Homo sapiens: one gene and its partner. The protein of the gene in region 1 purifies or fractionates together with the protein of each later gene. This does not show direct contact. Each region holds a gene or a part of one and is shown in the gene's direction. Other genes may lie near its edges.

What was found. The genes of interacting proteins can lie anywhere in the genome.
Region 2: the proteins of ZSWIM9 (region 1) and ADNP2 purify together in Homo sapiens (affinity purification with mass spectrometry, with the first as the bait; one large-scale study listed by BioGRID). This does not show direct contact.

Annotation. Positions count from the first base shown.
Region 1 is NC_000019.10:48,194,680-48,198,120, forward strand, and holds the end of ZSWIM9 (uncharacterized protein ZSWIM9), read left to right. Parts: coding exon 1-2,148; 3' UTR 2,149-2,941; downstream 2,942-3,441.
Region 2 is NC_000018.10:80,112,262-80,115,761, forward strand, and holds part of ADNP2 (activity-dependent neuroprotector homeobox protein 2), read left to right. Parts: intron 1-3,500. UniProt on the Homo sapiens protein: May be involved in transcriptional regulation. May play a role in neuronal function; perhaps involved in protection of brain tissues from oxidative stress. May be involved in erythroid differentiation.

The DNA of each region.
Region 1 (3,441 bases):
GCTGTGGTGGAGACGGTGTTCTTCCTGACGTCGCGCACCAGGGCGCTGCTGCGGCGCTTCCCTCGCATGCTGCTGGTGGACCGGCTGCCGGGGCTGCAGGGCGCGCTGGATCTGCTGGCCGTGCTGTGCGTGGACGGCTCGGGCCGTGCGCGCCAGGCTGCCTGCTGCGTGGCGCGCCCGGGCACACCGAGCCTGCTGCGCTTCGCGCTCGCGTCGCTGCTGCAGAGCGCGCCAGACGTCAAGGGCCGCGTGCGCTGCCTCACCGCCGGGCCCGAGGTGGCGGCGCAGTTGCCTGCAGTGCGCCAGCTGCTGCCCTGCGCGCGCGTGCAGATCTGCCGCGCGCAGGGCCTGGAGACGCTCTTCAGCAAGGCGCAGGAGCTGGGCGGCGCCGGCCGCGAGGACCCGGGCCTGTGGTCGCGCCTGTGCCGCCTGGCTGGCGCGTCGTCGCCCGCAGCCTACGACGAGGCGCTGGCCGAGCTCCACGCCCACGGCCCAGCCGCCTTCGTGGACTACTTCGAGCGCAACTGGGAGCCCCGCCGCGACATGTGGGTCCGCTTCCGCGCCTTCGAGGCGGCCAGAGACCTGGACGCGTGTGCCCTGGTGCGAGGCCACCGCCGGCGACTGCTGCGTCGTCTCAGCCCCTCGCGTGGCGTGGCGCAGTGCCTTCGCGACCTGGTGGCCATGCAGTGGGCCGACGCGGCCGGGGAGGCGGTGCCCGAGGGGCCCGATGGCGGGGGGCCTTGGCTGGAGGATGAGCCAGGGAGGGGAGCCCAGGGGGAGAACGAGAGGGTGAGGGGCCTGGAGACAGGCGACTGGGGAGGGGCTCCGAAAGAAGGAAGTATTTGGAGGGGAGCCCAGATGGAGAAGGAGTGGGCAAGGGCACTGGAAACCAGAGACTGGGGCGGGGCTCAGTTCGAAGGTGAGAAGGGGAGGGCACTGCAGATCAGAGATTGGAGAGGGGGTCGGTTGGAGAATCAGAAGCCGAGGGGACTGGAAGGGGGTGTCTTGAGAGGGTCGAAGTTAGAGAAAGGGCACCTGAGAGGGCCAGAGATTAGAGACTGGAGGGGGCCCCAGTTGGAGGGTGAGAAAGATTGGGGACTGGAAGGTTATGTCTGGAGGGGGTCCCAGTTGGAGGACCAGGCGCTAAGAGGATTGGAAGGGTATACCTGGAGGGTGGCCCAGCTGGAAGATCGCAGGAGTACCACCGACCTGAGGGGGACCCAGTTTGACTATGAGAGGGTCAGGAGTCTTGAAGGAAGCCCCTGGAGGGGGGCGCAGCTGCACGATGAAAGGGCAGGGGGACTGAGAACTGCAGAATGGAAGGGGCCACAGTCAGAAGTAGAGAAGGGGAGGGGGCTGGAGGTCAGAAACTTGAGGGGGATCCCCTTGGAGAAGTCCCTGGAGTTGGCCCCTGAGAACGGAGACCAAAGGGGACCCCAGTGGGAAGATGAGAGGAGGAGAGGGCCAGAGATTGCAGAGGAGAGGGGAGCGAGGGTGGGGGTCAAAAGAAGAAGGGGCCTGGAGGATATAGTTCTGGTCCAGCTGGGAGACACGAGGGTCACAGGCATGGAGAATGGAGATGGAGGGGGAGCCCGGTCCGTGGGCCCCAAGAGCCGAGCCGGACGAGGGATGGAGTGGGGAGACGCAGGAGGGCGGTGTCTAGGGCTGGGGAATGGAGTCGTGTCTGGCACCCCGGTGGGGACTGTATTGGAAGGCAGCCCAGAATGGGCAGCGGCGAGGAGTGAACACCTGGCTGCAGGTGACGGCCTGCAGGAAGGAGGCGAAGATGGCCCCAGGGAACCAAAGAGGCTTTGCCGACCCCCGGGAGAGGAGGAGGTGGACTGGGAACCCCTGGCCAAATTCCGAGCAGCCTGCGGGCCAGAGCTGGCAGACCTGGTGGCTGAGGAGTTGGCCTTTGCTAGGCAGCATGGGACCCGGGGTTTCCACTGGACCGGAGCTGGCTTTGCCCTTAAGGACGGCACCTCGGACTTCTTCCTGGATGGGGCCCTGACACGCTGCAGCTGCTCAATTCACGCCGCCCGCCGTCTGCCCTGCAGACACCTCTTTGCAGCGCGCCTCCTCACTGGGGCTGCCTTATTCCACATGGACCTGCTCAGGGATTGCTGGGGGAGAGCCCCAGAGCCCTGACCCTTCATGCCTCTGCCCACCACCCTCCACCAGGAGGGTCGGAGGGCATTCTTCGATCCCAAAGATAATAGGGCTGAGGCCAAGGAGACCGTTGCAGTCCCCCTGGCCACCTTCTGGGTCATCCAGGGACCTCCTCATGGCAGTTTGCCTCTCTGGGTCCAAGGGCAAGCTGTAAGTGGTCTCTGAGGTCCTGGAGCCACAGCTTGGGAAGGTGTTGATGGGCAGGGTGGATTCTGAGGGCTTCCCTCTGGAGAGGAAGCATGTGATGAGAGGTGTAGACAGGGTCAGGCTGGGACAGAAGGAAGGAAAGGGGCAGAGCTGGGGGGAGGGGGAGGAAGCGATCATATGGGGAGTGTCTGGCAAGAGTAGACTGGCCAGTCTAGGGAGTGCAGCGGGGAGAGGGGAAAGGGAGAAAGTACAGAAGACAGATGAAGGAGAGGAGGTAAGCGAGAAAAAATGGAAAGGGGAGCCGGAAATGGAGGAGAGAGGACAAGCAAAGAGACAGAAATGAAGACATGAGGAAAAGCTGGGGGAAGCAGGAGAGGAAGGGACGGGATGTAGGAGGGGGAAGAAAAATCGGAGATGAGACAAAAGAAATGTGTGGGAGACGGGTAGAGACGAAATGCAAGGGGCGTGGTTTTGGTTTTTCTCCAAGACCTGGAGACATCGACCCCCATCGCCTTCTGAAGAGAGAGGGAGGGCGGGCACTGGGGGTCAGGAGAGTCTCCAGCAGGGGAGGGGAATTGTTTGGACTATTGTTCTTCAGGATTGGAATAAAACAATCTTATTTTGGTTTCCGTGATGAGTTCTTGGCTTCTGGGGTTGGTTGGGAGTCCCAGATCCAGGGAACAGTTGAGATGGTCCAGCGTTCCTTCATTCTTTCTACCGACAAGGCCTCCTGGGGCCAGATGGATAGAGGAGCCACAATGAATTCATCTCCATAGCAACTCAAGCTTCCTCCTCCATCATCTGGACCAGTGCGTCCCAGTGGCAACTTCTTGACATGAGTCGATTCTACCTTCAAATGACTGACTCATGCCAAATGTCCTGGCCACAGAATGGGCCTGTGACCCAGTCCTGGTCAACGAGTCTGCTCAGGTTGAGGTGGGAGGCTTTTTTATTTTTATATTTTTGTAGAAACAGGGTCTTGCTATGTTACTCAGGCTGGTCTTGGACTCCTCGGCTTAAGCAATCCTCCTGCCACAGCCTCCCAAAGTGCTGGGATTACAGGTGTGAGCCACTGTGCTCAGAACTAGGAAGCTTTTTTTTTTTTTTTTTTGAGTCTTGCTCTGT
Region 2 (3,500 bases), on another chromosome or scaffold:
GAATGGATCTAAGAATGAATAAATTGTGGTAGCTTAGAATGGATAAATTATGGGTAAAAGTCAGCTTCCCATCCCCAAAGTGGTTGGCAACAGTTATGAAACCTGTAATTTACTTGCATTTTATTTTTTATCCTTTGTTGGTTTCCCTAAAGCAGTTAGGAAACTGCTAAACAAAAAAAAAAAGGAGGGGGGAACTTTTCCCCCTCCTTTTTTTAAATGAAAAGGTATTTGTGTGCTTGTGTTTTGTTTTGTTTAGAAGGGCCACAATAACGATGAAGGAATGGAAGCACTTTCATTTGAGAATAAAAAGTTCCTATTTTTCAAATTCAAGGGAAAAAAATAAAAAAGTGACAACTCCTTGGCCCTAGTCCCAAGCCTTGAACAAGTAACCACAGACCCCTGCCCAATCTCTGAGAGCCTCATTTTAGTAACCCCTTTCTGAGGTTCATGTATGTACAACCATGCTTACATGAATCAGCCAATCCCCAATCACTCTGCTTTTAAAAGTCCACCAGTCTTTGTATCCCAGGCTTCTCAAAACTCTGTGATAAGATCAGCTCTGGCTGTGTGAGTTGAGATTTTCTTGGAAGCAGTAAATTTAGCTTCCCTGTTTCAGATACATATGGATGATGGTCCCTACTTTAGACAACACTGTTTGTCAGCCAGCTTTTGGAGAAGAACCCCAGAGGATAGAGAGGATAGTGGAACTTTAAGGAGGAAATGAAATCAAGTCTGATAGAGTCCCTGGAAAGCAGCTAACAAAATTTTCGTTGAGTTTTGCTCTGACCAAAGAAGCTGGACTGGGCCAGAAAGTGACCTTGAGCTTAGTGTTTAGAAATGCATAATGAGGTTATGGCAGCTCTTGTGTGAGAGTGTAAGCTTTTGAAGGCTAGAACCCAAATCAGTGCATTTTATTAAAGAAAATTTTTAAACTTAAAATTTTATAAAGAAAATTTTTAAATTTTTATCCTCCCAGTTCTACAATGCTAATGATCCTTAAATCTCTCCTTTTGCTGAGACCAGGATACATTTTTCACATAGATAACTTTGAAAAGAAATTTATCCGCTTCAAAACAGCTTCTCAAAAACTTGGTGTTTGCTTGTTACCCACCAAAAATTTCTCCCTATTATATGTTAACCCTTTCTGCCTCCCACTCCTCTCCCAGTTTGATTCCAGTCCACCTTTTTGGTTTTACTTTTGCCAAATAAATTCAGACTTTTCCTTCTTTACCTCAATAATTTTTTGATGCTAATTTATTCACCTTGTATGTCTTGGGCACCAGCTTTCCATAGCCATGTCCTCTTTAGAACCTCCTAGCACTTTCTGCATATCTTACGGTTCTTATCCTGTTTTATTTTATATCTTTTGTTCATTTAATGAACATTTGCTACGTACTGTGCTCTGTGATGGGACCCTCTCAAGCAAATATAACATGATTTCTGCCCTGGAGTAGTTCAGCCCAATAGGAGAAATGGATATATAAGTAGATAATTGCAACATGGTGAGTCGAGTGCAGTGGAGTGGTATGTGGTTATGGTACTAAGTCCTAGGAGGGATCACTAAGCCTGTCCTTGGGTGGTGGATACAAGAGAGGAATGTAGAAGTAGAATTGCTTACTCAGAAATTGTCCTTAAAAATCATGAGAGAGCTGGGCATGGTGGTTCATGCCTGTAATCCCCGTACTTTGAGAGGCTGACGGGGAGGATTGCTTGAGCTCAGGAGTTCAAGACCAGCCTGGGTAACATAGGGAGACCCTGTCTCTACCAAAAAATAAAAAAAAGTTAGCCAGGTGTGGTGGCATACATCGGTAGTCCAAGCTACTCATGAGGTTGAGGCAGGAGGATTGCTTGAGGTTGGGAGGTTGAGGCTGCAGTGAGCTGTAATCAAGCCACTATACTCCAGCCTGGGTGAAGGAGCAAGACCCTGTCTCAAAAAAAAAAAAAGAAAAAAAAGATCTTGAGAGGTATTGCCAAATTACCCTGTAAAAGCATAAAAATTAAAATTTTTCTACTTTTACTACCACCAGATGTTAGTAATCTTAATAGTTACTGTTTTGATAATAAAAATTTGACATTTTAAATGGCATTTCTTTATTATTAAAGTTGAATAACCAAATATTTGCCACTTGAGTTTGACTGATATATATTTTAGCTTTTATAGCCTACACATTTAAATTTTGGAATAGTTGGCAGATTTTTAGGAAAGTTACAAGTATAGTACAAATAACTTTTTTCCCTGAATCACTTGAGAATAAGTTGCCAAAAAAGTTGCCACATTACCCTAAATACTACAAACAAGAACATTCTCCTACATATCCATAACAAAACCATCAAAATCAGGAAATCACTACATTCGAGCGGGTTATAGTCTATATAACTATATAGATTATCACTGTATACCAAACCACCCCAAACTTACTGGAGTAAGACATTTTATTTAAGAAGCGCATCAGTTCTCTGGGTCAGTTCTATTCAGACAGGGAAGGGAGATGGTTTGTTTCTGGTCCACAGTGTCTGGGCCTCATCTGGGAAGACTCAAAGGCAGGGGGTGACTTGACAGCTAGGGCTGGAATCCTCAAGAGGCATCTTCACTCCCATGCTGGTAGTTGATGTGGAACACCTCTACCTGGTGTCTCTGTGGGCTAGTTGGCACTTTCTACACATGTGGTATCTAGATTCTGGGCATGATCATCCTGAGAGAGGTATGTGGCATTTTTATGATCTAGTCTTGGAATTCTCATGGCATTATTTCCTCCATACTTGATTGGTCAAGGCAGCCACAAAGTTCTGCCCAAAGGTCAGGAGGGGGCATTAGATGCTGCCACTTTTGGGAGGAGTGTTAGGGCCGTATTGTAAGAGCATGTGGGTTGGAAGGTATTGTGTGTTTGGAAAATTCACTTTGCCACAGGTTGTATCTGTTACTTGATATATGCCCACATTGTCTCGTATCTGGCCTATGGGAGCCCTTTCAAGCTGGTTACTTCTGTGTTCTGTTGACATGCCTCATTGAGCAACTGCTTTATATTCCGGCACAGGATGTTCTAGGCTCATCTTGTCTTTACCATGCTCCAGCCATTTTTCCTAGGGTTCTTTTTAAAGGAAAGCGGTATTTAGGAATTCAGGTTTGAGCCCTAGTTGTGCCCACTGCTACTGGGGTGTATAACTGCATCCAGGCACTCTCAGTGGGCAGAGCTATGGAATGTATGTGTGTATGTGGACACACACTCTCAAACTATCTCTATTCTTCTATCTGTGTGTTGAAAACAATGAGTTCACTTCAGTAACCCCTAGTCTGGTCAAGTACTACAGGGTTTATTTTAATTTTGTGCCTTTTTAGATATTGTTTTAAACAGCTTGAGATATAATTTATGTACCATACAATTCACCAGTTTGAAGTGTACAGTGAATGGCTGTGGGCTCATTCACATTGCGTATACATCACCACAGTTGAGTTCAGAACGAAGAAGCCCTGCTTCCATCACTTCCCAGTTCTCCCAGCC